Regions from separate parts of the Homo sapiens genome. Here all the other regions are linked to region 1. Evidence: fine-mapped expression QTL. A gene starts in region 1. Each other region holds a variant in brackets. All regions are shown on one strand. Distances are from middle to middle. Region 1 holds the start of GCLC (glutamate-cysteine ligase catalytic subunit). Region 2 has its middle 5.3 kb from the start of KILH. Region 3 overlaps GCLC (glutamate-cysteine ligase catalytic subunit). Region 4 overlaps GCLC (glutamate-cysteine ligase catalytic subunit). Region 5 has its middle 12 kb from the start of KILH.

What was found. PIP is the estimated chance that this variant, and not a neighbour inherited with it, causes the effect. A credible set is the group of variants that fine-mapping cannot tell apart.
Region 2: its variant is the best candidate, but not a certain one, in a credible set for the expression of GCLC in whole blood (INTERVAL, PIP 0.73).
Region 3: its variant is the best candidate, but not a certain one, in a credible set for the expression of GCLC in testis (GTEx, PIP 0.64).
Region 4: its variant is the best candidate, but not a certain one, in a credible set for the expression of GCLC in left ventricle (GTEx, PIP 0.56).
Region 5: its variant is the best candidate, but not a certain one, in a credible set for the expression of GCLC in monocytes (TOPMed, PIP 0.89).

What each region holds. Positions count from the first base shown.
Region 1 is chr6:53,542,250-53,548,803 of GRCh38, reverse strand. GCLC (glutamate-cysteine ligase catalytic subunit) reads left to right here and starts at 3,703. Exons shown (of 16, transcript NM_001498.4): 1 at 3,703-4,308. The coding sequence starts at 4,159. RefSeq lists silencers at 433-662, 3,730-4,159 and enhancers at 4,380-4,439, 4,278-5,019, 5,958-6,554.
Region 2 is chr6:53,575,332-53,581,885 of GRCh38, reverse strand. No RefSeq gene overlaps it. Among named protein-coding and RNA genes, the nearest start is that of KILH, 5.3 kb to the right of the region's middle. The variant C/T (reference allele first, on the strand shown) is at 3,415.
Region 3 is chr6:53,515,656-53,520,655 of GRCh38, reverse strand. GCLC (glutamate-cysteine ligase catalytic subunit) reads left to right here. Exons shown (of 16, transcript NM_001498.4): 4 at 4,434-4,547. Among named protein-coding and RNA genes, the nearest start is that of GCLC, 27 kb to the left of the region's middle. The variant C/G (reference allele first, on the strand shown) is at 3,084.
Region 4 is chr6:53,506,785-53,511,784 of GRCh38, reverse strand. GCLC (glutamate-cysteine ligase catalytic subunit) reads left to right here. Exons shown (of 16, transcript NM_001498.4): 7 at 2,535-2,609; 8 at 3,074-3,190; 9 at 4,167-4,305; 10 at 4,760-4,872. It overlaps GCLC-AS1 (GCLC antisense RNA 1), which reads right to left. Exons shown (of 5, transcript NR_183318.1): 5 at 4,874-4,987. Among named protein-coding and RNA genes, the nearest start is that of GCLC, 36 kb to the left of the region's middle. The variant C/GTGGAGC (reference allele first, on the strand shown) is at 2,959.
Region 5 is chr6:53,582,121-53,588,674 of GRCh38, reverse strand. No RefSeq gene overlaps it. Among named protein-coding and RNA genes, the nearest start is that of KILH, 12 kb to the right of the region's middle. The variant G/C (reference allele first, on the strand shown) is at 3,725.

The sequences.
Region 1 (6,554 bases):
AAGGCAGCCACCAGCTTCACCCAGGCTAAGTGGTGTAGTAGACAGCTTTGAAATATCACTGGAGTTCAAACCCCAGCTTAGCCACTACCTGTTACTTAGTATTACTGGATCTCAGTTGCCTCACTTATAAAATGTGGCAAAGATTAGTACTGTTTTACGGATACCAGCTCAAAGTGCCTGGCATAGAATGTGATATACTGGGACCCAAGCGACAGACCACCAAGGTCAAGGGATACTCAAGCCAAAGAGAGCGGTAAAGGCAGGGGCAGATAACCTAGAAGTGCCTTCCTCAGAGTCCCCTGGGCACTCTCTCTGTTTTCCTTATTTGATCTCGCGAAGCCGCTGACTCAAGGGAAACTGGGAATGGCGTGACCACAGAGAAAATGATGTATTTTTTGGTCCTTGGAGGCCCGAAACCCATCGTGTCTGAAACGACTGCGGCAATCCTAGCAGCAGCAGCAGCCCAGAGGTCAGGAGTGATGGACTGAGACTTTGCCCTAAGAAGCCTCCCCCAGATTGACCTCCGGCTCGGAGCCCGCACAAAGCGCTGAGTCACGGGGAGGCGGTGCCGCGCGCGGGGGAGGCGGGCCCGCGCAGTCACGTGGCGGGGGCTGTATCACAACAACTGCGCGGCGTGCGCCGCCCGCGGCCCACACCGCTTCCTCCCGCGACAGGCCGGCTCTCCGAGCATGCTCAGCTTGGCCTCACGACTGCACGGCGTCCCCCCATGCGGATCTCCACGGTCCAGGTTTTCCGGACGGCTCTGGGGGCGGGGCCTGTGTTGGTCCGCGGGGCTGCGAGGCGAGGTTGCGGTGCCAGGGCGCCGCTGGGCAGAGATGGGTTCCTGGAGAGCGGGTCTCGCGTTTTTCCGCGGAAGACACTACTGGGAATCGGCCTTTGGTCATGGTCTAGGGAAGAGCTGATTCTGCAAGATATGAGCTCCTTCTTTCCCCTTCAGCTATCGTTACAGCCCTGATGGAGCTGTCTGCTGAAAACTCACTTCCAGATGTCGAAACCTGGCCCTGGGTGCAGTCTACAGAATGAAATCGAGCAGTAGTGGACCTATGCAGGCAAAGCATTGTCAGAGGGGAGTAACTCTTGTTAAATATGACTTCAGTTGATCCGTGATGGGATTTTTGTTTTTTCTTTGTAACAGAAAAGGCTAAAGACACTGAGAGATCAAGGTTTAAATTGGGCATAACTGCCCTGTGGTGCAGCAGCGCCGGCGCCCTTTTTGGGATTGTCCAAAGCTCTGGGACCCCCGCTGGGGGAGCTGGTTCAGAATTCGGGGGGGTAGGATAGGGTGAGGGAGGTCCCTTATGTGAGTGTGAGCCGGGATCTAGGACAGAGTAACTCCAATTACAGTGTTAAACTCTTACTAGGTTCAGTGTCGCGTAGGGCTTTGGCTAGACTAGAATTTAGTCTATTATTGAACCGCCCAGGTCCATGATTCCTAACAGGTGCATGGGAAAAGTGTATGGTGTGCAGCAGGTGTATGGGAAAACTGCTTTGCAAAGTGTAAATCAAGGTCTACATCAGTACTGTTTCAATAAAGTGGAATGAGAGCCACATATGTAATCTTAAATTTTTCAGTAGCCTCCTTTAAAATTAAAAATAAAAGTGGGTGGGGGTGGTGGTAAATTAAATAACATACCACATCATATTTAACTCAAAATTTCCAAAATGCTATATCGCTATGTAATCAATATAAAACTTTTAATGAGATATTTACATCTTTTTATTCTACTGTCTTAGAATCTGGTGTGTGACTTACACTCACAACACATCTGGGCCACTAAGTTTTCATTGGAAATACTTGATCTGTAATTACATTTCATAAAATTTACAGTCAAAAATGGATTCACATTTCCAACTTGTTTCAAATTTACTTAAAAGTTTTCCAGTAACTGAATGGAATATCAGTTTTTAAATTTACATTTAAATTGATTAAATTAAAATGAAAATTTGGTTTCTCGGTCATGTTAGCCACATTTCAAATGTACATTGGCCAATGTGGCTGATGGCTGTCGTGTTGAACAATGCAGGTCTATGAGAATGTCAGATGACATTATGAGAATAACCCAATGATCCTTGGATGTCTTACCTACATGGGAAACACTGTTTCTCCCCCTCTCCCACTACCTGCTTTTCACGGAGAAGCTAACATTTATTAAGCACACACTCTATACCAAGCACTTTTCTAGAATTAAAGGTACAAAAGGCATAAGTCATCTGTGCCCCAGAGGAATTCACTATTTAGTGTGGAGCTATCTTTAAAATGACTCTATCATTAATGTACGAATGCAACCAAAACACAGAGAGGAATAACTGTGACTCAAGAGATGAACATGAGTGTGTCAGATGGAGAATTTCAAGCAGGAAAAACAACAGAGTGCCAGAACCATATACAGATCTGGTGAGGTTGGTGGGAGGGCAAAGGAGGTTGTTGAAAAGGCTGTGGAAAAATTAGAATGTGGTTTGATTTCTATCCCACCTGTGTGATGAGGATGGAAACATCTTCTCCTGAGCTTCAAACATCCCTACCACACACAGACACACACACACAGACACACAGACACACACACACACCATTGTGGAAATCCCAGCCAGACCTTGGGTATTCATGCCCCCAAGCCCTGTGAGGGGCACATCCAATATGAAGGCTGTGGGAGAAGAGAATCCTGCTATCATGTACTCACTCATTTAGCAATTAATAAGTGCTTACTAAATGTTAACTCTGTAGTGCGAGGGAAGAGGGTATGATAAATACACACTTTCTGGGTAGGTACATGTATGATCTAGTTGCCTTCACTTTTCCCCTGACAGGTCATTGCTCTGTCAACACATATTTATTAAACAATCACTTGGGGGCACGGTACCTCCTTCCTCTCCTTTCCCTCCGAGATAAGGCCAACTCTAGGTGTTCCCACTATCTTCAACCCCACCCCACGGTAGGCTCACAAGAACGTCATTTTGATCACTTAAGGGATGAATTTTAGGTTTAGATGGAGGATAAACTTTTGGAGATGGTTCCTCATATGGTCTGTCTGGAGACTTTTTGCAATAAATGGTGTCCGTGCCATCCAGAGAACATAGGTCACCAGTTAATCAAGACAGTAGGGAATAATGATTTACACATGTTGACAAATTGATTCCTCTTAATAACCAGGTCAATTTTTTGGCCAACACTATACACATGTACACTATGCACATAATTACGACATCTATAAAAGATAGAATTAATCTAATTTTATGCAGATATGGGAAGAACTCGTCCCAAGTCTCACAGTCAGTAAGTGATGGAGCCTAGAGTTGAACTGTTTCACTTCACTACCATGTTAATACTTTTCTCAACACATTCTGCCGCTCTCACTCTAAGTGTGAGGCCCTGTCCAACTAAAACATAATATGGTGAGTTCGTCATTGATTCAAATAATCAACTTTCTTCCCGAATCCCAAGTTTATCTCTTCTGATTAGGAAAAAAAATGCATTTTGATATGTCGCGTTTGCGTAAAGCGAGGCCGACCGCACGCCCCCTTCTCGCGAGCTGCTCCCCTCAACTGCGACCCAATCACCCTTGCACACGCCTCCTGAGCCCCCGCGGTTCCCACCGGGCTTCAGGCCACGCCTCCGCCGCTGCACCGCCTCCTCTCCCCGCCTTCGCCCGTAGTCTATAAAACCTGGAGCGCAGGATCGCGCCCAGGAGCGGCGAGCTAGCGGACGCAAAGACTGGGCATGCTCCGCGGCGGCGCAGGTTTTGGTCACAAGTAGGAAGAAGCCAGTGCACCAGACCGGCAAAGAGAAGCGGGAGCCGCCGCGGCAGCGCGGCCGTGGGGTCCGCCGCCGCCGCATCGGAGCGGGAGGAGGAGCAGCGGGGAGGGCGAGGCCGCCGGGCCGAGAGCCGTCCCGCCTGCTCTCGGTCTTCTGCCTTCGCCTCCGCGCGGTGCGTCGGACCCAGGGTCTGTCACCTGGGCGCCAGGGGCCGCCGCCGGGGAGCCGGAGCGGGCAGGACCCTCCCTCCGCCGACTGCGGCCCGAGAGCGCCCCCGCGGGGTGGAGCGGCAGCCGCCTTCTGCGGGCGGCTGAGTGTCCGTCTCGCGCCCGGAGCGGGCGACCGCCGTCAGCCCGGAGGAGGAGGAGGAGGAGGAGGGGGCGGCCATGGGGCTGCTGTCCCAGGGCTCGCCGCTGAGCTGGGAGGAAACCAAGCGCCATGCCGACCACGTGCGGCGGCACGGGATCCTCCAGTTCCTGCACATCTACCACGCCGTCAAGGACCGGCACAAGGACGTTCTCAAGTGGGGCGATGAGGTGAGCGCCCGCGGTCCCCGTCCCCGCCGGGCACCCGTGTCTGGCCGCCCGCGCTGCCTTTGTCTTGCCCTACGCCCCCGGCCCTATCGCGGTCCGCGTTCTCCACTGCGCCCGGGGGTCCTCGAGCGCCTCCCGGCCCCGGGAGCATCGTCCCTGCTTTCGCCTAGTCCGCGTCCAGGGCCATCCTCCTGACTAGACTCCTTTCTTGTTCATTCATTCTTTTGGGTTTTCCCCTTCATTCCATAAACACGGATTGGGCGCTGGGAGGGCGTGAGCATGAAAAAGTGACATTAGGTGCTGCGAGTCTTCAACCTAGTGTATCTGCAGACCGGCAACTACCATGATCCACCTTACAGGCTCAAAATTCGCTTTTGCGGTCAATATGAAAGAGATTTAAGTTTTCCTAGTAGGCCTGCTGCTTTTAGAAATCAGGTCTTCAGGATGTCCACTTCTGCCCTACCTCATGCAGGTGTCTTTTCCTTAAACCTCTCCAACTTCTCATCTTCCCTCCCCTCCAAAACACACACACTTCATAGCTATAAATTGAAACCAGTAAATTACGGCTCAGTTTCCTACATGGGGGAGGAACCTTCCCTTTCCTGTTTAATTCTAAGTGGGAATGCATTTAGAGTTTCAACATTAGGATTTGCTTGTGTCTTTCCATGGCCTAGGTCCAGCAACTAAACTTTACAAACCAGTGTTCTGCCTAGAGATGAAATGTCTCTAGATTCTCAGTAGGTTGAACCATTGTTTATTGGAATGATCTGGAATGCAGCAATGTTAAAACTGTTGATTTAGTGTCATCTGCCAAAACTTTTTGTGCCTTCCCTTTCTGTTTTTGAAAATTACGTGTGTATGCAGTACACATTAAATGACTTCTTGAGAAGTCCATCTCTGTTTTTGTTTTTAGCTTTTGCCTTAGATGGCTTGCCACCTGTGTAAATTGTTTATCTTTTGGCCAGTGTTGTTATCAATCTTGGCCTAAGTGCTGACGTGCTGTTACACCAGTGCAGAATATCTCCTTTCAAAAAGTTAGTTTTTTTTTTTTTTCTAAGATTGGGATTCTACCTCCTACAGCTGAAGAAATTGTGCTGTTTTAAATTAGGAAAGTATGATGACTAGTAATTCACATTTCTACAAAAAGTGGTTTGTCACACTTCTTTGAACAGAAAAAGCACAGCATGTGTTTTGGTGATGATTCTTCAGTTTTACTGTAAAGTTCATAGTTTCTTTACAGCATCTGCCATTTTGTATATTCATTTTTGTATTGTGTGTCACAGGAAAATGTAAGACGAAATTGGGCAGGGACATTATGCTTGTTCACCTCTGTTTTCCTAGAGCCCAGCCTTGTGCCTGGTGTAGTTGGCATCAGGTCCTTGTGGCATGAATGAGTGAATGAACTACTATTTCAAGTTCCCACTGTATGGTAACTAGTCATTGTAGAGCAGTTCAAAGTTTGACATTTTTTTGTGCTGCTCTTTTTTTTTGAGACAGAATCTTGCTCTGTCGCCCAGGCTGGAGTGCAATGGTGTGATCTCGGCTCACTGCAACCTCAGCCTCCCGGGTTCAAGCAATTCTCCTGCCTCAGCCTCCTGAGTAGCTGGGATTACAGGTGCCTGCCACCACGCCCAGCTAATTTTTGTATTTTTAGTAGAGATAGGGTTTCACCATGTTGGTCAGGGTGATCTCAAACTCCTGACTTTTCACCCGCCTCGGCTTCCCAAAGTGCTGGGATTACAGGCATGAGCCAATGTGCCGGGCCCTGTGCTGCTTTTGACATTTAACTAGGTCTCTCTACAAAGACAGGCAGTTCAAGTCTTTGGTAGTCATTGTCCCAGGTAGAACTACATCAACAGGAAATTTGCAGCACAGTTGGAGCTCAGCAACTCCTTCTGGAGACAACACCCCACCCCCCACCACCCCTTATCCATCTTTGTCCCATTTGGTGTATTCCTGCAAGACACTCCAGGAATCCTTAATCTTACCCTTTTAAAAAAGGCCTCTCCTGTTGGCAGGAAGAGCATTTAGAACTACCTATTTTAAGTAACTTTTGTAGTTGTTGGGTAAATTGAAGTGGGAAGAGCTGAAGAGTAGAGCCTTGAAGTACGTGTCTCTGCTTTAACAGGCTTTCATGGAGAGATTTGCAATAGGTTTACCTCCTTCCCACTCCAAAAGATCAAGGGGCTTGGAAAAGAGTGGCCATAATGCAAACTTGTATTATGCATCTATAAAGGAGAGAAAATTGG
Region 2 (6,554 bases), 33 kb before region 1:
GTTTGTAGAATTCACTGCAAAAAAAAAAAAAAAGAAAGAAAAGAAAAGAAAAGGCTAAGAATAAACATATGTAAGAAAAAAAAGAGGCAAAATAAAAGAGCAGCTTCTTCAAGCTTGGGCTCAACTAACAAATAAATCATTTATACTTAAAAAAAAAATCTTCTCACTTCAACATACAAACTATTAATCCAGATCTCCATTATTGCTTACTTAAACTAGTAACAGGGTTTCCTTCCTCCTTTTATTGCACTCTGCTGAAAGATTAATCTTCTCACAGCAAAACTCAAAAACTTTCAGTAACCTATCCCCCACTGCTGGCCCCTGAAGTACAGACAAGATCAGGCACAGGCCACAGATGCCCTGGGGAATCAGCCCTAGAAAAAAACTGTGAGAAACTCCTGGAGACACTAAAGGCCATCATAAACTTTGGGTGGGGAGGAATGCAGAGTTAGAATAATAGGTAGAGTGCTGCTAGGTTCTGCTCTCCTTTTCTCTCCTCTTTCCTTTGGACCATTGCCTGTCCCATAACCACTGTGAGTCAGGAGGCAGCAGCAATCACCCACGCTAAAAAGGGGAGGCTGACCAGCTTCCCTGAGCACTCACTCCTCCAGTCCTCCTCATGTGTGGTAAATGGTGCATCACTTATGAGATGACTACCGGCTCCCTTTCAAAGGCTTTAGAGGAGAATCCCTAGCAGAGTAATGCCTAGTGGAGGGGCAACAGATGGCTTGTTGACTATCGTTCCAACACCTAAGGGACTCTCTGGGACTCAACTCCTTAATCTTAAAACCATAAGGAACACAGAAAGTAGGACCTGGTATTGGTATGTCACATTGGTACCTGATAACTCCAGGGGAACATCAGCTCACAGCTTAAAATACCTGAGGTTAGAACCACTGCAAAAAGAAAAACACACACTGAACATACACGATATCAAGCAGAAATACTGGAACAAACAAATTAAGAATTTAAAATAAGCACAACCACGCTGGGCACGATGGCTCATGCCTATAATTCCAGCACTTTGGGAGGCCGAGGTGGGCAGATCACTTGAGGTCAGGAGTTCAAGACCACTCAGGCCAACATGGTGAAACCCTGTCTCTACGAAAAATACAAAAAATAGTTGGGCATGGTGGTGGCCATCTGTAATCCCAGCTACTCGGGAGGCTGAGGCAGGAGAATCACTTGAACCTGGGAGGTGGAGTTTGCAGCGAGCTGAGATTGCACCACTGTACTCTAGCCTGGGTGACAGAGTGAGACTGTCTCAAACAACTGAAACAAAATAAGCACAATCAATATTGTCAAAAAGCTACTGGTAATAGGAAGCAGGAAAAAAGTCATAAAGACAGACAGACATTATACATAAAGTATAAAAAATTATGCTTCCAAGTAAGACTCCTAGATGGGATAAATAGCAAGCTGAATGCAGCCAAAGGAAAAATTGTAAAACTGAAAGAGCAGACTGAGGACATCTTTCAGAAGGCAGAAAAAAAGATAAAGAGAGAAATACAGAAATAAAAAGTTAAATACCATGGAGGATAAAAGTAGACATGCTGACATCCTGAAAACAGGAGTCCAAAGGAAGAGAACATAAAGGGAGGACAAATATTTAAGAGAATAACAAAAACAATTATCTCTAAATTAAAGATAAAAGAAGTCAGATGGAAAGGGTTGCATGCCAAATAGGAGAGATTAAGAACCTAGAAAGATTATTGCACATTTAAGAACAAAGAGAAAGAGAAAATACTAAAAGCTTCCAGGAAAAAAAGAGCATATGTCCTCCAAAGATACAAGAAGATTTGGCAGCAGATTTCTTAACAGCAACACTGGGGCCAAATATTTGGGGATTTTTCAGATATTATTCTGTTACTGATTTCTAATGTAATAACATTGTGGTCCGAAAACACACTTTATATGACTTAAACCCTTTTAAACTTATTGAGACATTTTATGGTGCACAATGTGGTTTATCTTGAACAGATACTCTACCAAAGAAGGTAGATGGATGGGAAATAAGCACATGAAAGACAGGCAACACCAATAGTCATTAGGGAAATGGAAATTAAAACCGTAATAAAATACCACCACACACTAACCATACCAACTGTTGCCAAAGCTTTAAAGGAGCTAGAACTCTAACATGCTGTTAGTTGGAATGTAAAATGACTCAACTACTTATATAGTTTCAAATCTCATGCTGAAATGTGACGCCAATGTTGGAGGTGGGGCCTAGTGGGAGGTATTTTGATCATGGAGCGGATACCTCATGAATGGTTTAGCACGATCCCGTTGGTGATGAGTGAGTTCTTTCTCTATTAGTTTGTGTAAGAGCTAGTTGTTTAAAGAAGCCTGGCATCTCTCTTGTTACTGCTTTCACCATGTGACACACCTGTTCCCCCTACACCTCATGAGTAACAGCTTCCTGAGGCCTCATCAAAAGCTGAGCAGATGCAAAGTGCCATGCTTGTACAGCCTGCAGAACTGTGAGTCAAATAAACCTCCCTTCTGCATAAATTACCCAGCCTCAAGCAAAGCGAACAGATTAATATGACTACTTTAGAAATAGTTTGGCAGTTTCCCAAAAAGGTAAATATACAGACCAGGGGCAATGGCTCATGTTTGTAATCCCAGCACTTTGGGAGGCCGAGGTGGGCGGATCACATGAGGACAGGAGTTTAAGACCAGCCTGGTCAACGTGGCGAAACCCCATCGCTACTAAAAACAAAAAAATTAGCTGGGCATGGTGGCATACGCCTGTAATCCCAGCTACTCAGGTGGCTGAGGCATGAGAATCACTTGAACCTGGGAGGTGAAGGTTGCAGTGAGCCGAGATCATGCCACTGCACTCCAGCCTCAGCAACGGACCAAGACCCTGTCTCTAAATAAATAAATAAATAAGTGAAATATACACCTTCCAGATGATCCAGAATTCGACTCCAAAGAATTACCTCAGGAGAAAAAAAAGCATATGTTCACAAAAGACTTGTATATAAATGTTCATAGCAAATTTATTTGTAATAGTCCAAACTGGAAATAATCCAAATGTCTATTACTAGGCGAATGGATAAACAAATTGTAGCACATTTATATAATGAAATACTATTCAGCAATAAAAAGAATAAACTATTGATCCATGCAACAACATAAGTGAACATCAAAATAATTATGCTATGTAGATAAAAGAGAGTACATACTGTTTTAACCATTTATAAAAAATTCTAGAAAATGCAACTAATCTATAGTGATAGAAAGAAGATGGGTCGTTGCCTGGGAACAGGGGAAACAGGCAGGCAGGCGTGGGTGAGCAGGGTTACAAAGCAACACAAGGAAGTTTGACGGTGGCGGGAGGGGGAAGGTAGAGATAAGTATGCTCATTATCTTGATTAGGGTGACGGTTTCAAGAGTGTATACCTA[C/T]GTTAGAACTTTCCAAAACATACGTTCTAAATATTTGCAGTTTATTATATGTCAATTATACCTTAATAAAGCTGTTTTTTAACAAAAAACATAATAAATGAAAAATAGAATTTTTATCTGATAAAGACATATGAAATTCAGATGCTGTTTTTATTTTCAAAAATGAACAAAGAAAAGAGAGAGAAATAAAAATATATTTATAGCATAATAATCCAGAACTAAAATTCTAAATAATATCAACACAGTAGTGGAGAGGAGGAGACAAAAAGACATGAGTTGGTAGCATCAGGGTGAGTCCATACAGGAGGCAGAAACAGAGTTAGCCGGGTTCTAAAGAACCGAAAAATCTAAAAGGGAACCATTACCATCACACCAACCCTATTCTCCCCAGTAGTAGCAGTATTGTTCCAGTAGCAACAGTTGGTTCCAGTTTGCAGTATTTCCAATGTTCCCAGAACCAGCCTCAACATAACCGAAGAAGTCTTAGTTCCAACTCTTCAGGGCAACTCACCAAATTTATAGATTTTCTTTTTTTTTTTTTTTTTTTGAGACATGGTCTCACTCTGTTGCCTAGGCTGGAGTGCAGTAGTGCAATCACAGTTCGCTGCAGCTTCAACCTCTGGGGCTCAAGCAATCCTCCCACCTCAGCCTCCCAGGTAGCTGGAACCACAGGTGCGAGCCACTATGCCCAGCTGATTATTTGTATTTTTTGTAGAGACGGGATCTCCCTGTATTGCCCAGGCTGGCCTTGAGCTACTGAACTGAAGTGTCCACCTGCCTCAGTCTCCCAAAGTGCTAGGATTACAGGCATGAGCCACCATGCCCAGCCCAAATTTATACATTTTAATAATTTTAACATCCTCTGATATTTTGCAGAAATACTGAGGAAATGTGAACACCACTTATTTAAGAAATATTTTCAAAATTTTCACTACAATTTTTTTTTTGAGACAGGGTTTTGCTCTCTCACCCAGGCTGGAGAGCAGTGGTGCTATCTCAGCTCACTGCAGCCTTGACCTCCTGGGCTCCAGCAATCCTCCCACTTTAGCCTCCCAAGTGGCTGGGACTACGGGCCCACACCACCATGTCTAGCTAACTTCTCTGTATTTTCTGTAGAGATGAGGTTTCACCATCTCGCCCAGCCTGGTTTCAAAATCCTGGAATCAAGAGATCTTCCCACCTCGGCCTCCCAAAATGCTGGGATTACAGGAACGAGCCACTGTGCCCAGCCTTTACCACCTTTTTTAAGGAAGATAATAGCATTCAAGTTATGTTTCCTCCCCAAAAAGCCCGTATCTTTTAAAGATTTATACTAAAATATTTACAGATGAAATAATATAATATCTGTGATTTTCCTCAAAATAACCTGAGGGGAAGGAATGGGTGGATGGGGATAGAGATAAACCAAGATTTGGCAATAATTTATCATTATTACAATTGGATGGTAGATAATTGAGAGTTCATTATAATATTCTACTTTTTTGTGTTTGAGATTTTCCATTTTTTATTTTTACTTTTTATTATTCTTTTTTTTAGACGGAGTCTGTTTCTCTGTTGCCCAGGCTGGAGGGCAGTGAGGCGACCTCAGCCCACTGCAACCTCTGCCTCTTGGGTTCATGCGATTCTCCTGCCTCAGCCTCCTGAGTAGCTGGGACTCTAGGCGTGCCACCACGCCTGGCTAATTTTCGTTTTTTTTGTTGTTGTTGTTGTTGTTGTTGTTGTTGTTTTGAGATGGAGTATCACTCTGTCGCCCAGGCTGGAGTGCAGTGGCACGATCTCGGCTCACTGCAAGCTCCACCTCCCGGGTTCACGCCATTCTCCTGCCTCAGCCTCCCGAGTAGCTGGGACTACAGGCACCCGCCACCACGCCTGGCTAATTTTTTTTTTTTTAGTAGAGACGGGGTTTCACCATGTTAGCCAGGATGGTCTCGATCTCCTGACCTCATGATCCGCCCGCCTTGGCCTCCCAAAGTGCTGGGATTACAGGCGGAGCCATCGCACCTGGCCTAATTTGCATATTTTTAGTAGAGACAGGGTTTCACTGTGTTGGCCAGGCTGGTCTCAAACTCCTGACCTCAAGTGATCTGCCTGCCTCAGCCTCCCAAAGTGCTGGGCATGATCCACCGCGATTGGCAGAAAAATATTTTTAAAGCATGCATACAATAGTATTTATATAATAAAGACACATACAAAGAAAAGCATAAATATCAAGTGCCCAAGAATTGCTGCCATTGGTGGGTGATGGGGATGGAAATCAAAGGCAGAAATAAAAGAAAATAAAAATGAATGAATGATGGAGAAGGAGGAGCCTAACACAGACCATTGGCCAAAGTATGAAATAAACTAAGGAGTATAATTGGACCAATCTTCAACAAACAGGAAAACTGGAAAATGAAAACAGGAAAAACAAAACAGGCCACGTGCAGTGGCTCATGACTGTAATTCCAACACTTTGGGAGGCTAAGGTGGGCAGATCACTCGAGTCTAGGAGTTGGAGACCAGCCTGGCTAAAATAACGAAACCCTGTCTCTACTAAAAACAGAAAAATGAGCCAGGCGTGGTGGTGCACACCATGCCTGTAATCCCAGCTACTCAGGAGACTGAGGCACAAGAATCACTTGAACCTGGGAGGCGGAGGTTGCAGTGAGCCAAGATCACGGCACTACACTCCAGCCTGGGTGACAGAATGAGACTCTAAAAAAAAAAGTCCTATGTCAGTCCAAAGGCTGGCATTTAAGGATTTAAGGTCTCCTAAATTTGGTCTTGGCCTACCTTTTTAAGCTTATTTTTTCACCCACCTTGAAAAACTAACATCCCATCAAAATTAAATATCTATTGTTGACCATGTGTCTTAGTCTATTTCAGGCTGTTATAATAAAATACCATAACCTGGGTAGCTTATAAACAACAGAAATTTATTTATGACATTTCTACAGGCTAGGAAGTCCAAGATCAAGGCACAGCAGATTCCATGTCCGGTGAAGGCCCACTTTCTGGTTCATAGAGGGTGCCTTCTTGCTGTGTTCTTGCATCATGGAAGGGTTTAGCTAGCTCTCTGGGGTCCCTGTTGTAAAGGCACTGATTCCAATTACAAGTGCTTTACCTTCATGACCTAATCACATGCTAAAGCCCTCACCTCC
Region 3 (5,000 bases), 27 kb after region 1:
TAGACTGCACTTGATAGACTCTGTAACAGTAGAGCTGCAGACACAGTTGCATGCCAGCTTCTGTCAGCTGTGGTGGCTGCACCGTGGTGAGTGCACTCAGTGGGGGCTCAGTGGGAAAGACCAGGATACTGTGATGACAGACCAGCAGTGTGGCCGTGTCTGCCGCAGGCGAGGGTGGAGGGAGCAGCACGCCTGCCACACAGTTCTGACCCTGTAAGCAGTAGCCAAAGCTTCTGGAATGCTGTCCCCTGGTGACTGTGACAGTTGCGCCCTCATGCACTTTCAAAAAGCAGCATTTACCTGCTAGCATATGGTGGCATCAGTGGCAGATCAGAGGATCTGCAGTGCTCCCAAAGCACTATCGATACCGATGCTCTATGAACAACGTGAGTCATTAGGTCCTTGCATATTGTTCTGAAAAGAAGATTTAGGGTTTGTCATCAAATCTAGTTATGACCAAAAGTACATAAAAGTAAATAGTGAAATTATGTTCTTCGCTTAGAATGAGGTACATGAATATCATATGTATTATACATAGAACCTCTATGTAAAAATACATTTCTGCCAAAACATGAATGTGATTTATCTATGCTAGATGTCTGTCAGATGGTGACAGTATACTTAGCTCCTCAAAGTTCAAAGGAGCTCTGGGGGTTGGTATCAATGGTGGAGAACACTTTGAACTATTTTTATACCTTTTCTCTGATACGTGTCCGTCAGCCATTCAGGGTCATATCATTGGCCTCAGAGGGGCATTTAAATGGGAATTCTATTTTTTTTTTTATATCTCTACTGTAACATCTAAATAGTTGAAAACTTATTTAAGCCAGCCATCTAACATTTATAGAAGCATCTCTATTTCTGTGATACCTTCATTCTGTATGTACAGGTCACTTCTCTCTCCACCCCCAGAAGGAAAAACCCAGCTGGGTGAGGGTGGACAGATTTGTTTTGATTAGAGTGGGCACATTTCTTCGACCTAATGTTTGAAAGAGGAGGTGAAAAATCATTGGCCCTGCCATTCACTCAGACACTTGAGTGCCTGCTGCAGGCAGAATGGGCATGCTCTCATGAGTGAAGACGGACAGCTCTGTCTCTGTGGAGCTGGGGGGTTGAAGAACAATCAAATACCCATAGATTCATAAGCGTCAAAGTGGGGCTGTGCTAGCAGGAGGAGATGGGGAGCAAAGAGTACAACCTAGGTATCCAGTGGACTCTGGTGGGTGGAGGGGGAGGGGGTGGGATGTCCAAGGTTCCAGGAGGAGTGAAATAGGAATGAGGAGCGGAGGACAGTCTTAGGGAGGGGGAGCAGTGTGTGTAGAAGTCCTAGGATGAACCAAACAAGCGGGGACTTCCTGGGAACTAGAAGAAAGCAAGCTGGCCAGTGTGACTAGGAGGCTGAGGAGGAAGTGCAGGTATGGGGTAAAGGGAAGCTGGCAGGTAATTGGCAGGCCAGGTCAGGTTAACCATAAATTTTAGTTGTTCTCCTAAAAGCAGTTGAAGGCCTTGGAAAGGTTGGGTTGGGCAGATGGCATCCCCTTTTTGCTTTGCAGCCCTCACTTGGGCTGTAGTGTGAGAGTAGCTGTGGAGCTGGTGCCAGGGCTTACTAGGAGGTGAGTGAGGGAGCTCCCTGAGGGGAGACAAGGGCTGCCTGGATGCCCGTGGGTGCTGGTGATAGGAAAAGTGGGTGGTTTAAAAGATGACAGAGTCAGTGAACTGCTGGGGAGAGAAGACACATCAAGGCTTTTGCTATAGGTCATTGTCCTGAAAACCTTAAGAGTACTAGAGTAGAGGCCAAGGAGTAGGTTACAGATGTTAAATGACAACTTCTAGTGAACTGGAAAATTTAATACCTTATATGTTCATTTTTTTCCCCTTAACATTAAGAGGGTTGTACATTTCACTTAGCAAATTAAGAAAGTGGGAGGGGATTTGTAACACAAACCAGAACTGTTTTATATATTAAAGCTGAAGAATATATAGGATTGATGGGCAGTGGTGTTTCCTTCTGGGCCAGAAAATAAAGTTTTGGGTTAAGCCTAATGTGCCCTTTACCTTGAGAATGGTTCCATATGGGATAGTTGCCTTTTTAAAAAAGATTTAGTGTCTGGGCATGGTGTCTTACACCTGTAATCCCAGCACTTTGGGAGGCCGAGGCAGGCGGATCACCTGAAGTCAGGAGTTCGAGACCAGCCTGGCCAACATGGTGAAACCCCGTCTTTACAAAAAATACAAAAATTAGCCAGGTATGGTGGCATGCGCCTGTAATCCCAGCTACTCCGGAGGCTGAGGCAGGAGAACCGCTTGAACCTGGGAGGTGGAGGTTGCAGTGAGCTGAGATTGTGCCGCTCTGCTCCAGCCTGGGTGACAAAGCAAGCCTCCGTCTCAAAATAAATAAATAAATAAAAATAAAAAGATTCAGCATCTTAAGTCATTGTGAAGGGAAAGTTGAGACAGAGGAATAAGCTTTATTCTAAAAACCTGTAATTTAGAAAAAATTATATGTATAATTTTTTATACCCTGTCCATATAGGAAGGTATTTTGGGACTTGAAACAATAATTATTAGTTATTTAGTGGTTAGAAGCCTCCCTATACATCCACAATAAATGATAAAGTTTTGTTGTAGTATAGGATCAAGAGAGAAAGGAGTGCTCTGGTTCTTAAGTGTAAACAGGGTGACTTTATAAAGATGCAAAGATTTATAGTGTGGAACTCTAGTCCAAAACAGTAATCATGTGACTATTTAAAATTAAAATTATATAAAATGAAAATTGTAGTTCCTGATGTGACTGAGGAACTAGCCTCATTTCAAGGGCTCAGTAGCCACGTGGTTAGTGACTACCACATCGGTTTGGATAGTGGAGATATTAAACATTTCCATCACTCCAGAAAGTTCTGTGGGACAGCACTGCTCTAGAATGAAGCAGTGCCGTAGGTGTCCGAAGATGCAAGTTCTGATTCTACCTTCTCCCTTCCACACAAACACATTCTCATTCTCTCTTCATCCAATCTGATTCTGGTGAGCAAGGAATCCCCTCAGATTTAAGTTTATTACTCTCCCAAAGGACTATTCCTAAGGTT[C/G]TAGGCTCATAGTAAATAATGCACATAGCTTCAAGAATTCTCAAGAACCCTTGTAGCTGGGAACTGTTTTCTAGATAAGATCACTACCTTCAATTGTTTACAAGGTGGATTTGGGCAGGCAACAGATACTTTATTTTATATTAAGAAAAGGTAGGGGTTAAAAATAAGGCATTGATGGCCAGGTGAGGTGGCACGTGCTTGTAATCCCAGTACTTTAGGAGGCTGAGGCAGAAGGATTACTGGAGCCTAGGAGTTAAAGACCATTCTGGGTAGCATAGTGAGACCTCGTCCCTGGAAAAAAAAAAAAAAAAAAAAAAAAAAAACTTGGTACAGTGACTCATGCCTGTAATCCCAGCTACTCAGGAGCCTGAGGCAGGAGGATGACTTGAGCCCAGGAGTTCAAGGCTGCACTGAGCTATGATTGCACCACTGCACTCCAGCCTGGGAGACAGAGCAAGACCCTTTCTCAGAAAAAAAAAAAAAAAAAAAAAAATTTTTTTTTAAAAGATATGAGCTAGTCTTGATCCTCAAGCCAAAAGTTTCTTCCCACTAATTTAAAACTCCTCCCTTGTTTGGCTTTCGCTTAGTCTTTGTCCTCCCTCACAGCACATGTAATATTGACCTCAAATTCCTAACTTGGAAAAACTGGGGCCATCACTAAAAGTGATGTAGAATTTGAGCTTTACACTTAGGAATAAATATGGAGCTTCATTTTTCTGTGTTGAAATTAGAGCTCCTTAAGTCAAGTAAGAGAATAGGATTGGGTTTCAGACTTCAGAGGGTGATCTCAGGGGTAGATGGGGACACCTGCAGAGACACTCCCTAATCTTGAGGGACTCATGAGGTGACCTATAGAGGCAAAAAACAGGCTCCTTCCAGATTCAGAGCCTACCAGGAAGTGGGAGGCAGTGGTGCCATGCAGCAGGTCCAAAGATAATCTGAGAGTTTAGAGATGGAAAAGGAAGACACCTCATAGGCCATGTAGGGGACACCTGTCACCCATGACAGCTGATGTGACCAAGGGAAATGACTTCTGTGCTATCAGTCCTTCCTATTAGATGAAGAGATGGAGAGGACCCGAGTAAGTGCTGTGTGGTTTGTGAGTGAGTGGAGACTTGGATAAAGTTAGTAGTGGGCTGGAATTAAAAGAAGATCCTTGTGAGCAAGAAGTGTGGGGAGTGGTTGTAAAGGGGCACAGTATTTACACAACATCTGTTTTGTAAACACAAAGCCCTCTGAAAAGGGGATACTAGAAATGAGGTGTCTTTGGCAGGTGCAGTGATGGCAAGACTGCACACAATTAATTCTTGAAAACAAATCCCATCTATTTAGTTCTTCAATTTGTTGTAGATTAGGCTGTCCTGGGTTCACACTGCCCGAGGTCAAACCCAACCCAGTGGAAGGAGGAGCTTCCAAGTCCCTCTTCTTTCCAGATGAAGCAATAAACAAGCACCCTCGCTTCAGGTGAGTATGGCTTTGTGTTGAAATGCAGATGCCCTTCACTAGACCCCTGACTTCTGAGAGTATAGTATTTCTGTCTAGAAATCCTTTTTGAGCATTAACTGAGTTTTGGCTCTCTTCCTAAGTAACCAGAGAAGATAGCAGATGTGCACCTGTTCACATCTTCAGTACCCCCAGGCTTCTTGGTTGTTGATGCGTGCACCAGGCTTGATTTGTCAATTCTCCAAGTCGTCACAAAGTTATTCGCTGAGCCACTGCGAATAACTCTTTTAATAGGGAGATTATTTTCAGTCCTAGGTCTGTAAATGCCTACTGGGATTTTTTTTTTCTCTTAGTTATTTCTCCTTTTTTGTCCTCTCTAACCATCAGTATCTGTGATTTGCCCATCTTACTCTATATAACTTATAAAATAGGTGCAGTACCTGATATATATAATAGGCACTCTCTTCCATTAAC
Region 4 (5,000 bases), 36 kb after region 1:
TCCTAGCAACATTGTGTGTCTCCTTCATATGATGCCTCAAAACGACACTAGAAGCCCAAATTAGTCATGTATTCATAGCTTTTTAAGGTATAAGAACTTTTTTTCCTTCCATTAAAGCCATTATCCACAGTGATGTCCTATTTAATTTGATTGCATATCAGCTGTAGACTAAGAAAGCTAATTACTAAATGCATTTAAAATAACTAAGTCACTTCACTGTTGTATACTTCTCTGGGGTTGAATTTCCCAGGATTCACCTACGAATTATGTATTGTATACTAGGCCATCTAAGAGAAGCCAGTTGAAAAACTGGAAAGAAAACCTGCTTCTCATAGTATCTTTTTAAAAACAAAAATGACACATACTCAAATACCTAAGAGCAACACAAAAAAGACCTAAAAAATCTAAGAGATGCATGTTCAAAATAATTCTTTAGTCAAAATACTTGGGAAACATGTAGTTTTTTGTTTTTTGGTTTTTTTAAAATCTCAATGCCTTGTCAGTTTGGCTTTTGGGGTCCCGGTCTTTCAGGTTTCTCACTATACCTTTGACCGCATGTCATCCTCTTTAGCACCCCCCCCCCACTTTTTTTTTTCCAAGATTCTCATTTGTTAAGCACTAACCAGGTATCAGATGCTGTCCTGCGCACTTGGGATAGAGAATGGGAAGAAAGATCCCCGCCCTTCTGGAGCTTCTACTTCAGCAAATAAGTGCATAAAGACTTTGGGTACCAGCTCCCATTTCCTCACTGCTCATGTAATTTCATGCCATATGCAAAGCGATTTCCAAGTTCCCACCTCTTTGCAGAAACTGCCCTTGGTTTGGTTATCAGTGACTTAATTGCCAACCCTTATCAATTTGTGTCTACTTTAACCTTTGAAACTCTTATTCTTTGATGCCTATGACACAGCTTTTCTCTGTGTTGAATTAATTATTAAATTAGTAATGACTAGTTAATACAGTCTCCACATTGACATGAAATGTGGTTATAATTGAGCAGGCAAACTTGAGTCTCCAATAGACATTGCTGTGGAAAACAAAGTTGAGATCTAGCTAAAACCATTGGAACTAACAGGTTGAGATTATAACAGTAAAATATTCACTTAGCTGCTGTTATTTCAAGTCTTAAACACTGAAATTATGTCGTGTACCAACACTAAATTCAAGCTGTCATTAATGAATAACAACATGAAATTCAAACTGTCATTATTGAATAACAACAGAGGAGATTAAAACTGTTCCCAACTTGCAGTTATTACAAATGTGCTAACAAACACAATTTGTGTTCCTTGCCCCTTCTACCGTCTTGGAAAAAAAAGCAGGTTTTTTTTTTTTTGGTTTCTGTTGGGTAACAAAGAATTTATGCTCACCAAGTTATATGATCTTTTCTCTGCCTAACTCTTAAGTGTCCTACCTACCATCCTTGTGCAGGCTTCCTGGGTGATCTCCCCATCTTCAGGACATTCTCTGAGCCTACTCCCCAGGTCTTTCTACAACTCGGGTTTTTCTTCTGGGCACCAGCCCTGAAGACCTAGCCACTTAGAGGGCCTCTTTTTCTGTCTGTTCTCTTGGCCTCGTAAGTCCATCATGTCATGACACCTCTTTATCTCTAACCTCTGAACACCCAAGCCAAAACCTAAGCCATCCCCTACTCTCAGTCTCCCCTTGGTCACCAGTGCCTGCTACTTTGACTTTAGTATCACTCTCCCCACATCTTTCCTCAGCCTTTTCCTTGACAGGTGCAGTATTTTAACTGCTTCCCTGTCTTTCTAGTCTTTCCCCCTTCCAAGCTCTTCACCATACTGCCACCAGTGAAGTTTGAAAACAATAGTTGGCCGGACGCGGTGGCTCACGCCTGTAATCCCAGCATTTTGGGAGGCCGAGGCAAGCAGATCATGAGGTCAGGAGATCGAGACCATCCTGGCTAACACGGTGAAACCCCATCTCTACTAAAAATACAAAAACAAAATTAGCCAGTCGTGGTGGTGGGCACCTGTAGTCCCAGCTACTCGGGAGGCTGAGGCGGAAGAATGGCGTGAACCCAGGAGGTGGAGCTTTCAGTGAGCCGAGAGCGCGCCACTGCACCCCAGCCTGGGCGACAGAGTGAGACTCCATCTCAAAAAAATAAAAGGAAGAAAGAAAGAAAACAATAGTTAACATGTCCAAATCCCTTTTGCATCCCTCACTGACTGAAGGGATAGGAAGGCAACAAGCCAGTAGAAGAGAAAATGCTTTGCTAAACATCATCGTATGTCTGTGTCTTATTTTTCTTTTTTGACTATTTAATCTTATTTCACTTAGGACCTTGGTTATTTATATTAGTTGTCTATAGGCAGTGGAACATAATTAAATACCATTTTCTAGTTAAATTCACCTAAGACAACTTTTAAACAAAACTCTTGCGTTAAATGTTGCCATTAATGAAGCGTTGTTAACTTGCCCCTCTCTGCCCAGCACCTTCCTTCTCTGACTTCACTGCTTGGGGAGCATGCTAATGATTCCTTGGTGTTAATAACTTTGCAATTCTTAAACAGGTGACATTCCAAGCCTGCAGTATATCTGAGGCCAGATACCTTTATGATCAGTTGGCTACTATCTGTCCAATTGTTGTAAGTAGAAATTACCTCTTATTTTAAATACTACTTCGTATGAAATAAGATAGCATGTGCAGAATTTACTGACAGTGTGCTATTTAAGTCCAGTTAAGACCTCAGTCAGAGATGGACTAATATAAATAGTATGTAGGTTTAGGTATAATGAACTGAGAGTCTACACTGTAGAAGTTTACTCTTGCTAGTACAACATTGATTTGTTAAATGTGAAGTTTGAATGTGGCCATTTTCCCTCCCCCATACTTCATGTCCTCACATTAGAGAGAGGATGATTTAAGTGAATCAAACCCAAGGAACTGGATTCTTCCTGGTATATTTCACTGTAAGATAGGCACAGGTACATGTG[C/GTGGAGC]TCTGTATGGGTTGCATAAACATGCTTTTTGATCAGAAATATAACTGCATGGAGCTTTTTTTAGCATGTAAGTGACACTTTGAATTTGCAGGAGCTGACTTTTGTTTGTTTTTAGATGGCTTTGAGTGCTGCATCTCCCTTTTACCGAGGCTATGTGTCAGACATTGATTGTCGCTGGGGAGTGATTTCTGCATCTGTAGATGATAGAACTCGGGAGGAGCGAGGACTGGAGGTGGGAATTGTTTTTCCTTAATAGCCCTTTTAAGTCAAGCAGGTAAAATGGATCTTTTGTAACTACTTGCAATTTCAGGATGTCTCCCTGCAATTTTTATCTGAAATGGGGAAAAAGATTTGGTCTAGGTGGGGAGTTAATTTTTATCGTATGTTGATGTCTGTATTTGTTTTAGCTTCATTTAAAATTAGTAGTCCGATTTTTCTATATTTTGGAAGTGCTGATGGCTGTTTTTACCAAAAGGCTTTTTGGTGCCACATGAGTGTTTTGTATATGGTGCTTTCTGCTGTGGAAAGTATAATTTGTTGTCAGAGATTCTTTTTCCATGTAAAAGGTTAGGCATTGACTAATAAGGGTGAGATGGCACCTCTTGTTTGCATGTTGAACTGTAAAGTAACCCTTGCATCTCTCCAACAAGGGGTGTGCATCAGAACCACCCATGGAAATCTTTGAAAATAGACACCCAGACCCTATCCTAGACCTACTAAATAAGAATCTCTAGGATGGGACCCGAACAAGGGTGTTTTTAAAGGAGCCCTCATAAGTGGTTTTGATATTCTCAACCAGGGCTATACTACTACTGCTCTGGTCTTCATGTAATTGTTCATAAATTGTTGAACATGCTTTCTAAGTAGAAATAAACTTTAAAGGATAATTATTTTGATAGGTTTATCTTACGTTATAGATTTATTTATTTATTTGCTTTTAACCTTAGTATTTATTTTCCCTAGCTTAATAAGAATGAAAGTGATCTGCTTTTAAAAGATAAAAGTATATTTAAATCATACCAGAAAAAAAGGGTATTTAAATTGCCTTCAGATTTTAAAAAACATAATTTTCCTTAATAATACTTTTTAGGGCTCACTAACTTTTTTTCTGTATCTTATGTTGAGGTTTTTATATAATTATCATATATAAAAATATATTCCACTCATTTTATATAGCATATTCATTTATATATATTTTTAATCTTTAGCCATTGAAGAACAATAACTATAGGATCAGTAAATCCCGATATGACTCAATAGACAGCTATTTATCTAAGTGTGGTGAGAAATATAATGACATCGACTTGACGATAGATAAAGAGATCTACGAACAGCTGTTGCAGGAAGGTGGGTTTCTACTCCATCTTTCTGGGTTTGAATGTACGCCTTTAGTTCTTCAAAGCTCTTTTACACTTTTTTGCTGACTCCTGGTCTGGTTTCTATTTTTAGTGCAAAGTCTTTAACTTCTCTCATGAGGCTACTTGTTCCTAAAGTTTCAGGTTCCAAATACTTGTGAGATTTTCTTGATTTTTAGCAAAAGGAGCTTACTTTGGAGGTCTGTGTCTAGGTCCACACCAGTGCCCCAGCAGGCATTGTGTAAGTAGTGAATAAAACGCTGACACTCCCGCAGTGTCCGCAGGATAAAATACTGGGTGAGGTGAGGATACTAATCAAACCAGCTATTTCAAGCTTCTAGACACCCTTTCTTCAAACTTCCTGAGCTATCCTGTCGTCTTTCTGGACTAAGAGGAAGTGGTATCTCTCGCTTTGCAGTGAGTTCCCATGTGATCTCTTTTTGCAGGCATTGATCATCTCCTGGCCCAGCATGTTGCTCATCTCTTTATTAGAGACCCACTGACACTGTTTGAAGAGAAAATACACCTGGATGATGCTAATGAGTCTGACCATTTTGAGGTATCTTCTCAGTTTTATTTTTATTTATTTATGTATTGACTTCTGAGAGTCTGGAATCCTCTGTTTTATATGCATTTCACTTCACAAACCAACATGGGGAGGCAGTTTTCTGTACCTGTGGAGAACAC
Region 5 (6,554 bases), 40 kb before region 1:
GCAAGAACAGAGAAGTAACAGAACAGCGTGAGATATGCGGTGCATCTGAGGCATTACCAGGACGTATCTGCACCTGTTGATGCCAAGTGAAATGTAAAAGGTGCCCCATATACCCACCAATCACAAACACTTATTCATACAGTTCACACATGCTCTCGTTTGTAGCCCTCATGTGCCTCTCAAATTGTACCCTCATCTTCTGTGGGCCTGACTGCCACGCAGTACCTAGTAAACATTAAAAAACATTTGACTCTCGGCCGGGCACGGTGGCTCACACCTGTAATCCGAGCACTTTGGAAGCCGAGGTGGGAGGATCACCTGAGGTCAGGAGTTGGAGACCCACCTGACCAACATGGTGAAACCACATCTCTACTAAAAATACAAAAAAATTAGCCAGGCATGGTGGTGCATGCCTGTAGTCCCAGCTACTTGGGAGGCTGAGGCAGGAGAATTGTTTGAACCCGGGAGGTGAAGGTAGCAGTGAGCCGAGATGGCACCACTGCAATCCAGCCTGGGTGACAGAGTGAGACTCTGTCTCAAAAAAAAAAAAAAAAAAATTGACTATAGAGAAATGCCCTCAACCCATCTTTTTCCTGGGTCCAGAATATTAGCAATATCTACACATAGAGATTTTCACAAGTGGTCCTCCTGATTTTAATTATCTTTTTGAGATTAAAAAAGGAAAAATGCTAAAAATAAACATGTGCTTTTCAGAGTAAAAAAAAAATAAAACTGCAAACCATGAGGAGTCACCAAACAGTTGCGACTGTGATCTTTTATTTTACAAAATTATAATTTTTCAGTGCATGCTAGACAGTTTGGGGTGAAACATGCCAAGCAAATTTGGAGGTTAAAAACTCTGGCAGACTGGAAAAATATTTTCAAGACTATACAAAAATTTAGAAAACAAACATTTGATTTTCAACATAGACAATTCAAAACTAAAACTATAAAGAAAACAAATCATTTTTTGCTATTTACATGATTGCTACATGCTATAAGGTAGATATTAAGCTCTATAAAGTAAATGGAGAAATTGGGCTCTTGAAAGTAAATGGAGAAATTAAGCTCTAGAAATTACTATAGGTGTGGCTGGATAATATTTTTAAACACAGTTTCACATGCACCCACTCACATTTCCATGCTCTCCTTGCCCTTTCAGATTAAGTCATCCAGGGCATTGTTCTTTAAAGCTTCAGGGCAGGTAACACCTGGCAAAGTGAAAATAACAATGGAATCAAATGTTTGGCATTTCAGTTTTGAAAGGCTGGGCCTTAGCTTAGAGACACATGATTTGGGAGCGTGCATTTTCTGAAATGGAGAAGGAGAAAGATGGAGAAGGAGAAAGATGGAGAAGAAAACTGTGTGATTAGAATACTTGAGAATTGAGAAGAGTATAGTGCTGCCCTGTCCGATATGTCAGCCACTAGCCATGTGTGGCTAAGCACTTGAAAATGATTAGTCCAAGATGAGGTGGACTGAAAGTGTAAATTACACATCAGATTTCAAAGACTTAGTAAGAAAAAAAAGTAAAATCTCTCATTAATTTTTACATAATTATATAAAGAAATCATAATAATTTGGATATATTGGGTTAAATAAAATATACTGTTAAAACTAATTTCACCTGGCCTGTTTCTTTTTTTTCTCTTCTTTTCTTTTTTCAAGATGAGGTCTTGCTGTGTTGCCCAGGCTGGGACTTGAATTCCTGGGCTTAAGTGATCCTCCCCTCTCAGCCTCCCAAGTAGCTGGGACTCCAAGTGTGTGCCACTGCCCTGGCTCCTTTTTAATTTTTTTCTAATGTGGTCATTTAAGACAGCCATATTGACATAATCTAGATACATCAAAGAGAGAAAATATTTTAAAACAAAAAGTAATTACTTTGGAAGAATAAAAGCCAATTACAATTACCACAATAAAGAAAAATAACATTATTATCTAAAATATTGTTACAGTCTAAATATATAATTAGAGTGAAGAACACATACAATAATTTCATTAGTGAAATGTTCAGATTAATTTGCTACAAGAAATAGATAACTTGAAAACAACTCTGGCTGGGCACGGTGGCTTATGCCTGTAATCCCAGCATTTTGGGAGGCCGAGGTGGGAGGATCACTTGAGCTCAGGAGTTCAAGACCAACCTGTGCAACATGGTGAAACTGCATCTCCACAAAACATACAAAAATTAGCCAGGGGTGGTGGCACATACCTGTAGTCCCAGCTACTTGGGAGACTGAGGTGGGAGGATCATTTGAGCCTGGGAGATTTGGTCTTTGGAGGAGATTGCAATAAGCCAGGATCACACCATTGCATTCCAGCCTGGGCAACAGAATGAGATCCCTGTCTAAAAAAAAAAAAGAAAAGACAAAGAAAGAGAAATAAATAAATAAATAAATAAATAAATAAATAAAGAGAGAGAAAGGAAAAACAACCCTAACATTTAATTAAATTCAGCACAACTATGAGGGTGATGTGTGCCGGGGCCAGTGGTAGTTGCTGGAGCTTTAAAGTTGAGAAAATCCCATGTGGTCTGCCTCCCGGAGAAAAGCACACATTTCAGAAAACAGTGATGGAGGAAATCCCTGGAGGTGCTGGAGGGGGTGGGTTTCCAGACCTGAGACATCAGAGAAAGCTTCTCAGAAAATGGATCATGTAACCTGGACCCTGAAAGAATAATTAGAGTTAGTCAAGCCAAATAGGGGAGGGAGGGGAGAAGAGTATTCCAGACAAAAGGAACTACATATTCAAATGCTGAGAGGTGAAGAGAACACTGATGAACCAAAAGAAATTAGGTTGGCTAGATGACAAAGTTTGGAAGAAATTAGATTGGAGAGTTAGGCACATTATGAATCATTCCCCTAATTTAAATCGTGAACTGTATGGGTGTTTATACAAAGGGAAGTGGAAAGAAATTAAAGAGTTTTAACAGAAGGGACGTTCATAACCAGATTTGCATTCTAAGGTCTTTCTGACAGCTGTGTGGAAAATGGAGGGGAAGTGGCAAGGCCGGGGCAAGTGCTCCAGTTACAAAGCTGCTTCATAATCTAGGCAAGAGAAGAGGATGGCTCGGGGCTGGGTAACATGGTAATGTGGCTGTGCGGATGAGGAGAACTGGATTTAAACAAGAACTATTCATGGGGATAGAACTGGTGGGACATATGAATGAACTGGAGATGGAAGAACTCAAGGATGATGCCTGGGTTTCTCTCTTGGGTAACTAGGTAAACAGCCATGTCAGACACTGCAGATGGGATACAAAAAGAGCTGAGGGAGCAAAAAGCAGTGTGCGGGTGGGGGAAGCGGAGGTTTCAATCTTCAGTTTTGGACATACTGAGATTGAGGTAGGTGCCTGAGAGATATCCAAGAGATGTTTTTCAGTAGATGGCTGGATTTCTGATGGTCAGGAGAGTGACTTCAATTGGAGACATTGCTTTGGAAGAGATGAATACATACAAGATAATCAAAGCTATGCAAGGGAGGAGATTGCACAGGAAGAGTGTGTAGAGGAAGAAGAGGAAAAGGCCCAGGACCTAAGCTGAAGGAACATCAATATTTAAAGATGGGGAGATACAAAAGAGCCCTCAACAGACACTGTAGAATGGTCAGAGTAACAGGAAAAAGAGCAGAAGATAGTGGTATAGCAGAAGCAAAGGGAGTAACGTTCTTCAAGAAGGGAGTGATCAACAATGTCACATGCTGCTAAGAGGTTAAAATAGAAATT[G/C]AGAAGTATCCATTGGATTTAGCAATACCAGGTTCTTTGTGGCCTTGGTGAGAAGGTTTCATTAGCATGGGAGAGCAGAAACCAGATTACAATGGGTTGAGGAGTGGCAAGTGAGAGAGAGACAGCACAGAGACAACTGCTGCATCCAATGGATTTACAGCCAAGGACTATAATTATGGCTTCCTAGAATATATCCCTTGGAGCCGTTGCATAGCAGGAATGAGTGACTGAGAGATGAGTGGATGGTGGATAGAACTCAGAGTGGTAATTTTTATATTTAAAAAGTAGCCTGTTGTTGAACTGAAAAGCAGTAAATACCAACCACTCCTTAAGCAAATGCTGACTGATAGTGTACTAGGCAGAGCAAGACTAAAAGCTGGGAGAATCGGCTGATCTTTCATCCAGCTACTAACCGAAAATTTTACCCCTCGCCCAACTTCAACTTCACGCTGTGCACCAGAGATAATAAAAAATAAAGATCTCTGTCAACTAATTCATTTAAATCCTTAGGTAAAAATTCAATAGAACCGACAGCCAGCTGCAAGAAATGTTACATTTTAAGACTCTATTTTTACTTTCTGAAATCATCCTAATCCAGTAGTCACAGCAGGTTAAATTAAGTTTTAAAAAATTTTAAGATAACTAAAAATTCTATATAACAATAGAATATATATATTCTGTATAACAATGCACCCCAAAATGTAGTGACTTAAAGCATGTATTATTGTCCTTGGTTCTGTGGATTGGAAAGAATCCAACACCTACTTTCCAATGGGTAGTTCTTTCGGTCTGGGCCTGCACAGCTGCTGGCTGCTGGCTCACTCACACATCTGTATGGTAGCTGGTGGTTCAGCTGGAGTTGGATGGGCTAAGAGAGCCTCCGACTTAGGTTTGGTGGCTGGTGTTTGTTAGTTGGAGTAACAGGGATGGCATGACCCTGTGTCTCTCTTCATCCAGAGGCTCATTCACATGGTTATCTCAAGGCTCGAAGAGCAGCAAGACAGCAAGCCCCAACAATGCACAAGCACCTTTCAAGCCTCTACTTGCAGTGCATTTATTTGTTAATAATGTCCCATTGGCCAATCAAGTCACATGACCAAGCCCAAATTCACCAGGTGGAGAAATAGAATTCACCTCATGATGGGAAGACCACAAATTCACATTGCATAGGGTATCCATAAAGAGATGAGATAATTTGTGTCTAATTTTACAATCGATCACAACTATTTTTTGCTTAAAAATACTTATTAGGAACTTCCTCCTAATTTAAACTTAGTGGAACCATAAACGTAATGAGTCATACATTTGCCACATGTTCACGAAATAAGACTCTTACTTCTTTTTTGTCTTCAAAAGTGGCACTAAATCACAATAAAGGAAGGGTATTCTGAGGACTTTGAGCTCCTTAAGGGGCTGTCTCTTTTCTGTATCCCCAACACTATGGTAACTTTATTTGAATGAATGAATGATTTATTACCTGTATCAGTCCTTTCTTGCATTGCCATAAAGAAATACCTGAGACTGGGTAATTTATAAGAAAAGTGGTTTAATTGGCTCATGGCTCTGCAGGCTGTACAGGAAGCATGGCGGCGTCTGCTTCTGGGGAGGCCTCAAGGAACTTTTACTCATGGTGGAAGGCAAAGTAGGAGCAGGTATGGATTAGTGGAGAGAAATCATGGAGAAATAGTAAGAGTAAGGGAGAGGATAAATACTTAGTGACTTACATTTTGGTGGTGACTAAGACTAATAGGCATCCCAGTCTATATAAAAATATCTTGATAATAGCTTAACATTGAAGGCTTTAATGGAAGGTGAAACAGAAACTACATGAGTTTCTCTGAATGACGGGTGGAGATTGAGTGTAAGGAAGTGCTTCTTGAACCTAAGTATACCTTAGAATCTCCTGAAGAACTTTTATAAAATACAGGTATCCTGGCCTCATTCCCAACCAATTAAATCAGAATCAGTGGGAACAGACCTGAGCACTGGTAATTTTTGGCAGTTGTATTCTCTTTAAAATCCCCAGGTGCAGTCAGTACTGAGAAATATTGGTATATGGCAGTGATTCTCAGAGTTGATCCCTGGACTAGTAGTGTCACTATGAGTTGGGGACTTGTTAGGAAACACATTATCAAGGCTTGCCCCAGATTTACTGAATCAGAAACTCTGGAGGTGGAGCCCAGCAATCCCTGTTTTAACAAACTCTCTGGGTGATTATGATGCATGTTAAAGTTTAAGAACCACTGGTATATGGTGGGGGTGGGAGCACAGGGGGAGTAGCTACACTGTATCTATAAGTATCCTTCATGGTCAGCAGAAGTTTCCTTCCCATCAGCATTTTATGAGAATTCTTACTGCGTCTCACCAAATTCTTTTTACATATGATTTATAGCAGAATTAGAGGCATAAAAGACAGGGGGAAAAATAAACAACATTATCTTACTTAAAACTGAACATTTTTCATATGTTTGTAATTAACATAAAACTTGCGTGCTACAGTTCAAATTGATTTCCTTGATTTTAACCTGAAATGAAAATGGAGATCAGCCAGTTACCATTCTGTGGAGAGACAAACACACTGAACAATTGCAAAAAGGATAACAAATAGTTCATCCAGCCTGCTTTTAGAAAAATCACAGAATAAAGGTAGTGTTTCAGTTACCAACTTTCAACCCAGTAATAGGAACATATGCAATGATATTTGATCATAGTCTCTATTTTTATTTTTAAAAACAGGAAAGAAAACAGAAACAAAATTTAAAAAAGAAAGAGAACCACTCTAAAAAAAAAGTTGAGAAAAAGAAAACTAATAAGAGGAAATTCCTCAAAC